Linked DNA regions of Homo sapiens. The protein of the gene in region 2 interacts with the protein of the main gene of each other region in a biochemical or structural test. Each region holds a gene or a part of one and is shown on either strand. Other genes may lie near its edges.

Region 1 (3,806 bases), on a different chromosome or scaffold from region 2:
CCTCAGCCTCCTGAGTAGCTGGGACTACAGGCGCCCGCCACCACGCCTGGCTGTTTTTGTATTTTTAGTAGAAACGGGGTTTCACCATGTTAGCCAGGATGGTCTCGATCTTCTGACCTCGTGATCCACCCGCCTCGGCCTCCCAAAGTGCTGGGATTACAGGCGTGAGCCACCATGCCCGACCGCCCTGGCGGTGTTTTTTTGTTTTGTCTTGTTTTGTTTTTTTGGTTGGTTGGTGTTTTTTTTTTTTGTTTAGAGACAGGGTCTCTGTTGCCCAGGCTAGAGTGCAGGGGCGCAATCATGGCTCACTGCAACCTCGACCTCCTGGGCTCAAGTGATCCTTCCACCTCAGCCTCCTGAGTAGCTGGGACCACAAGCCGGTGTCATCACACCCCAGCTAATAATTTTGTTTTTTATTTTGTAGAGACAGGGTTTTGCCACGTTGTCCAGGCTGATCTTGAACTCTTGTCCTCAAGTGATCCTCCTGCCTCAGCCTCCCAAAGTGCTGGGATTATAGGCGTGAGCCACCACGCTTGGCCTTGTTTTGTTTTTAATTAATAGACTTTATGTTTTTTGAGCAACTTTAGGTTTCTAGGAAAATTGAGCAGAAAGTACAGCAAGTTCCCTTGTGCCCCCATGGCCTCAGTTTCCCATGACCTTAGTTCCGCTGCCCTCAGTTTCCCCTGCTGCTCCTGTCTTGCCTTGGCGTGTCTGTCCCTACTGCAGCCAGGCTGATCTGTCCCAGCGCACCTCACTCTTGCCTCCAGCCATGGGCACGGCCTCATCGCGTCTGCGTTCCCCGCTGGAGGCCTTGTGGAGGCCCTCACCCATGGCAGCTTTTGCCTTCCCTCTAGAGTTTAAAGAAACCCATTATCCCCAAAGAGTTTGGGGGCAAAGTCCCCACCGTCATCCGCCAGCGCTATCTCAACCTGTTCATCGAGGAGTGTCTCAAGTTCTGTACCTCCAACCAGGAGGCCATAGAGAAGGTGAGGTCCTGGAGTTCCTATCTGGCCGGTCGGGTGGGGACTAGGGGTCCAGGGTGGTCCCCAGACATCCCCCGGCCTCTCAGCCGCAGCTGTGACCCGGAGCTGCCTGGGAGAGATGCAAGTCCCCGACCCCATGGCGACCCCACCGCTGGGGCTCCCCGGCACCAGGCAGGCATGGCCTCAGCTGGGCACCGCCTGTCCCCCAGGCACTGAACGAGGAGAAGGTGGCCTATGACCGCAGCCCCAGCAAGAACATCTACCTGAATGTGGCCGTGAACACCCTCAAGAAGCTCAGGGGCCTGGCCCCCAGCGCTGTGCCCGGCCTCAGCAGTGAGTCCTGGCGGGTGGGCGGGGGAGGCTCAGGGTTGCTCTTGGGGTGGCAGCTGGGCTGGGACCCTCGCTGGGACCTTCACAGCCCTGAGCTCAGCCACAGTCTCAGACAAAAGGAAAGCGCGGTGCTGTGGGGGGGCTGCCTGCTGCCTGGTTCCCAGGCTTCTGTGTAGGACGGACCTGGCCCTGGTGTCCTCGCTGTCAGCCGCCTTCCTCCGCTGAGTGGGGTCTCCAAGCCGAGCCGAGGGGCCGCCTGCTAATGGAGCTGCGGCAGCTTCTTCAAAGCAGGAGGCCCAGGGCTGGGCGAGCTCCATGCATTAAGCTCTGGGGAGGAAGAAAGCGGAGACCTGGGCGTTTCATTGCAGCCTCTCCAGGCTGCATTAAGCTATCACCGGCCCCTGCCCCCGTCCCCGCCTGCATTAGCACTCGGAGGGGCCCTGGGTTGGCGTCGCAGGCTGGGTGGCCCATGAAGGCTCAAAGCCCTCGAAAGCCATTAGATCCCCCGTGCTGTTCTCCCCGCCCTTCCCCCTTCGCTTGAGGGGAGGGGACGAAGACTTTGGGTGTGGGGCCTCCGTGCAGCTCTGGGGCCTGCAGAGCTGGCGGCTGCCCTGCGTCCCTGGCTCACCGCATGTCTGCCTCTCCTGTTCGGGTCAGGCTGGAACCCGGGGTCAGTGGGGTGCTGTCCCAGAAAGGGGGAGTTGAGGCAGAGGTCTGAGGAGGGCAGGGTGGGTGGGAGAGCAGGCGGGGCAGGGGTCTGAGCCAGCTACTTCACACCCTCCTCCCCTCCCTCCCTTCCTTCCAGAAACCAGTGGCCGCAGGGTTGTGTCCCACGAGGTGGTGTTGGGGGGCAGGTTGGCCGCCAAGACCAGCTTCTCGCTCAGCCGTCCAAGCAGCCCCCGGGTGGAGGACCTGAAAGGTAAGGCCCTGCCCCTGCTCTGCCACACGGTGCTTCGTGGGCCTCTGCCGGCCCAGCCCCTGCTGTGCCACACGGTGCTTCGTGGGCCCCTGCCGGCCCAGCCGCCTTTCCCGGTGGTGTCTACCGCCCCGTGGGCCATCCCAGGCAGGGGCTGACCACTGTGCCTGTCCACAGGGGCTGCCCTGTACAGCCGCCTCAGGGAGTACCTGCTCACCCAGGACCAGCTCAAGGAGAACGGCTACCCCTTCCCGCACCCAGAGCGGCCCGGGGGCGCAATCATCTTCACAGCTGAGGAGAAGAGGCCCAAGGACTGTGAGTCGCTGGCCTGCGACGGCCTAGGTGGGCAGGTGCGGGATGTGGGCAAGGCCGGGCATGCGGGCCCCAGCGTGAGCCTCAGCTTCCACCTGGGTCCCCACCCACAGCTTCCTGCAGGACCTGCTGCCGCTGTGGCACCGAGTACCTCGTGTCCTCTTCAGGCCGCTGCATCCGGGACGAGGAGTGTTATTACCACTGGGGACGGCTGCGCCGGAACCGGGGTAAGGCCTTACCCGGGTCCTTCCCCTTCCCACCCATGGCCCCCGGAACCTGGGCCCTCCCTTGAGGCCCCCAGAACTGGGGTAAGGCTTTACCCAGGCCCTCCATCCCACTCAGGGTCCCTGGGCTGCACCGTCTTTGGCAGAGCCGGGGCTAGCCCTTGGCCTCATTTTCTCTCCACCTGTTCTTTATGCAAAAGTAAGACAAGAGCTTTCCCATGACAAGGTTCAAATGCCACCACCTGAAAGGCCCTGTGTCCCTGCCTTCCTGTGCCCTTGGTCCATGGAAATGTGGAGGTTGCTGGCCCCAGGAGCGGAGGGGCTTGTCCCACCCTTGGCCTGGTGGTTCTATTCAATCCCCCAGGCAACCACGCAGCCACGCTCAGGGCACATGGCCAGCCTTGCACAGCCCTGTGGCGGCCCCTAAAGCCATCGCCTCAGGGATACCTGGAGGGTGCTGCCCGGGGCAGCGCTGCCAAGAGGCCTCTGCAGAGGGCACTGGTCTCCCTGGATCCAGGCCTGGGCGTCCTGGCTGCCACACGACTGCCGGGGCCTGGTCTGCTTCCAGCTCCACCAAGAGGCTGAGGCCTCCTGTCCTCAGTCCTCACTCCCTAGTAGGGCTCGGTAGATGCAGGTGGTCAGTGCCCCGGGGGCTGTGGAGTGGGCCTGGCCGGGCCCTGACTGTGTGTCTGTGTCCCCTGCAGTGGCCGGAGGCTGGGAGACCCAGTACATGTGCTGCTCGGCTGCCGCCGGCTCTGTCGGCTGCCAAGTCGCAAAGGTGAGCCCTGGCGTCCCAGTCCCCTCTGCCTGTTCTCAACAGACTTCTGCCTCCCCATCGTTGGTGTGGGGTCTCGGGACACAGCACAGTCCTGGGCTCAGGGTCTGGGCCCCCGGGCAGCCTTTCTTGTGTTACCCAGAGAACGTAGCACCCGTAGGCCCCAGGCCCTGTCCCTGGCCACTTCCCATCCTGGGAAGCCGTCCTCCCTGTGTCTTCTTGGCAAGCCCCCTTCCCCACCTGCTCACCAGGGTCCCAACCAGTGA
Region 2 (3,806 bases):
TAGTAATTGTTCAGTAAATTGCTGCTGCTGTTATTAGCAGCCCTTTATCCTATGTGTTACATAGGATTTTTGTCTGAAAGAAAAAAATGTCTAATTTTCATAGCAAAAGAAGTAGAAGCCACATAAGGGTCTATCAGCAGGAGACTAACAGATAAATCATGGTTCATCTACACAGTGGCATCCTATGCCACAGTAAAAAAAAAATGTGGAAAGTCTATGCACTGACATGGAATGATCTCTCAGATGTGGCAAATGAAAAAAAGCAATGTATGTAGTGAGTATGTTATTAATTGATTCATTGGCTTAAAAGGAATAAGATACATTTGCTTTTTTTTGTTGTTGCTGTTGAGAGTCTTGCTGTGTTACTCAGGCTGGAGTGCAGTAGCTCCATCTTGGCTCACTGCAGCCTCCACCTCCTAGGTTCAAGCAATTCCTCTGCCTCAGCCTCCTGAGTAGCTGGGACTACAGGTGCATGTTGGGCAGGCTGATCTCGAACTCTTGACCTCAGATGATTCATGTGCCTTGGCCTCCTAAAGTGCTGGGATTACAGGAGCTTATTTTTAAATTCTCTGGAAGGATCTACAAAAATCTGTAGCGTGGATTGCCATTGGGAAAGGGAAGTAGGAGGCTGAAGGGGGTAGAAGGAGAGTTTTCACTGGATCACTTAGGGCCTTTTGTGTTTTTCTTGCCCTATAGCGTTCTCTTCACCCCAGGAAGAAGAAGAAGCTGGATTTACTGGGCGCAGAATGAATTCCAAGATGCAGGTGTATTCTGGTTCCAAGTGTGCCTATCTCCCTAAAATGATGACCTTGCACCAGCAATGCATCCGAGTACTTAAAAACAACATCGATTGTAAGTCACACGCTTCTCTCTAGCTCTCAAGCACATTGTAGCACTTGGACCTTATCACTGGGTGGCTTGGCTGCTACTCAGTGTCTTCACCTTTGGTTTCTCTGCAGCAATCTTTGAAGTGGGAGGAGTCCCATACTCTGTTCTTGAACCCGTTTTGGAGAGGTGTACACCTGATCAGCTGTATCGCATAGAGGAATACAATCATGTGAGTATTCTGTTTGGGTGGGAAGAGGGCAGTTTTCTGGCTTGTACCTCCAGAAATAGCTTTGTCCCTGTGACTCCGCTGTGGCTGAAGGGCAGATCAGTGGTCAGAGCATTGTTCTGGATATATTTGGTTTGCCACTGGGCCTTTAAACAAGCATGTTATTAGCACTTGCTCCTGGCACCTTAAGTGGGCCTCTTGGGCTAGGATCAGGGTGGGATTCAAAGGGAGAAGAAAAACACTTAACATCTCCCTTGAGCTTGCCTAGTCATGAAGGTAAAGGGAGAATTCTGGCAGCAGAGTAGCTGGGACCCAGGGCGGGGAAAGCACTTTGTGTTGACACTCTGACATCTGGTGATTGGCTGGATGTCTCTTAAGAAACATCAAGATTTATCCAGAATCCTCCTTAGGATGTAGGGTATACACATTTGATTGCATCAGCTGTCTCTCTTTAATTCTGAAAGTTCTATGACCTAACACCTTTTTTTTTTTTTTTGGAGATAGGGTCTACCTCTGTTGCTTCGACTGCAGTACAGAGGCCTAATCATGGCTTACTGCATCCTTGAACTCCTGGGCTTAAGTGATCCTCCCAAGTAGCTGGGACTACAGGCACATACCACCACAGCTGGCTAATATTTTTATTTTTTAGAGAGATGGACTCTCAGACTCTTGGCCTCCTGAAGTGCTGGGATTACAGGCATGAGCCAACGCGCCTGGCCAATAACTTAACATCCTTCTTAGGTTGCCCCTTTGCCATCACAGTTCAGCGTAGTGTTGGGAAGTACCTGATTTGACTTGATCGCAGTTCTACCCTTTGCTGATTTTCTAAAGGAAAAGACTGATGTTACACAGATTTTTGTGATATTCTGTCACAGCCACCAAAAGCAACTAGCATAGTGCCTCACACTTCGCATTTTTAAAATTTAGGGAGTTATTTTTTTCCTAGAATTGTGGTATTTTAACATACTACTAAGATGAAGACCAAAAAATTTTTGGGAAACTGGTCACTCCTAGGTAATTAAATAATCAGAAAAAGATATGAGGCTGGGCATGGTGACACACGCCTGTAATCCCAGCACTCTGGGAGGCCAAGGTGGGCGGATTATCTGAGGTCAGGAGTTCGAGACCAGCCTGGACAACATGGCAAAACCCCATCTCTACTGAAAATATAAAATAGCTGGGCGTGGTGGTAAGCACCTGTAGTCCTGGCTACTTGAGAGGCTGAGGCGTGAGAATCGCTTGAACCCAGGAGGCAAGGGTTGCAGTGAACCAAAATTGCACCACTGCACTGCAGTCTACACGACAGAGCAAGACTCTGTCTCAAAAAAAAAAAAAAAATATGGAAAAGTGCTTGTACACAAATGATGTCCTGGTTCTGGTTTCAGGTATTAATTGAAGAAACAGATCAATTATGGAAAGTTCATTGTCACCGAGACTTTAAGGAAGAAAGACCCGAAGAGTATGAGTCGTGGCGAGAGATGTACCTGCGGCTTCAGGACGCCCGAGAGCAGCGGCTACGAGTACTAACAAAGAATATCCAGTTCGCACATGCCAATAAGCCCAAAGGTAACAGAGACGGGAGAGCTGGGGGAGAACTGGCAGGATGAGTGTTCTGGTCAATAGCAGGGTGTTGGTGGGCTTGGCTGGTGTAGGACTGCTTGCCCCTACATCAGGTAGCAGGGTGGGTATTTCTTCTGCCACCGCCCATTCTACCCTACAAGTGGGGTTTCAGGGCACTCAAAAAGCCCGTGGATTATTTAAATAACAGTAGCATCTCTGCTCAAGAAGGCAGATGTTCATCTCCATAATTCCACAGGCCGACAAGCAAAGATGGCCTTTGTCAACTCTGTGGCCAAGCCACCTCGTGACGTCCGGAGGAGGCAGGAAAAGTTTGGAACGGGAGGAGCAGCTGTCCCTGAGAAAATCAAGTAAGATCTGTGTTCTTACCTGGCTTTTGTGTGCTATCAACCCTTAGAGGTAGCCATAGCGGCAGGAAGCAAATTGCTTTTGGTGAAAGTGAGGCAGTGCAGACTGTGGGCTCTGGAGGCAGACCTCATCAGCTCAGCACTTCCCTCACCTCCCTCAGCCTCCGCTTCTTGGACTGCAGTGCAAGGTGATAATTACCCCTGCCCTAGGGTAGTCAAGATTAAATGGAGAGCAAAGCCTGGCTTATGGGAAACATTCCCTTATGCTTTCCCTTTTCCCATCTAAACAAAAAACACATTTCTGCAATGATTGTTATTTTGTCTAAGCCACATTAGCCTTTTCAAAATACAGATTTATACCAAAACAGTGAAAAGTTAGTTGAGATTATCATTTTTTCTGAAAGGATAATGGAGACATCTCTGAGCCACCACCAGAATCCAGGGTGATAGGGTCCATTGGTCAAAGCCACAAACAGGGTGAGTCATCCTCACACAGGCCAGCTTCAGGCTGTTCATGCTCAGGGCAGATTTCTTGTGCTCATGCCTAACCAGTGTTGTCCTGTGTTGCAGGATCAAGCCAGCCCCGTACCCCATGGGAAGCAGCCATGCTTCCGCCAGTAGCATCAGCTTTAACCCCAGCCCTGAGGAGCCGGCCTATGATGGCCCAAGCACCAGCAGTGCCCACTTGGCACCAGTGGTCAGCAGCACTGTTTCCTATGATCCTAGGAAACCCACTGTGAAGAGTAAGTAACTTGGAGTTCCTGCTCAAATATTATTTCAGCACTAGTTTTTAACTCTCAATGTCATTATTCACTGTATTACATTTT

The links.
Region 1: the proteins of ELOA (region 2) and REXO1 form a complex in vitro, tested with the Homo sapiens proteins (one study listed by BioGRID).

What each region holds. Positions count from the first base shown.
Region 1 is NC_000019.10:1,817,444-1,821,249, reverse strand, and holds part of REXO1 (RNA exonuclease 1 homolog), read left to right. Parts: intron 1-854; coding exon 855-986; intron 987-1,069; coding exon of another isoform or gene 1,070-1,081; exon of another isoform or gene 1,082-1,192; coding exon 1,193-1,316; intron 1,317-2,118; coding exon 2,119-2,232; intron 2,233-2,406; coding exon 2,407-2,544; coding exon of another isoform or gene 2,545-2,571; intron 2,572-2,654; coding exon 2,655-2,768; intron 2,769-3,469; coding exon 3,470-3,543; intron 3,544-3,791; coding exon of another isoform or gene 3,792-3,806. UniProt on the Homo sapiens protein: Seems to have no detectable effect on transcription elongation in vitro.
Region 2 is NC_000001.11:23,753,404-23,757,209, forward strand, and holds part of ELOA (elongin-A), read left to right. Parts: intron 1-696; coding exon 697-852; intron 853-959; coding exon 960-1,057; intron 1,058-2,439; coding exon 2,440-2,620; intron 2,621-2,870; coding exon 2,871-2,982; intron 2,983-3,549; coding exon 3,550-3,722; intron 3,723-3,806. UniProt on the Homo sapiens protein: SIII, also known as elongin, is a general transcription elongation factor that increases the RNA polymerase II transcription elongation past template-encoded arresting sites.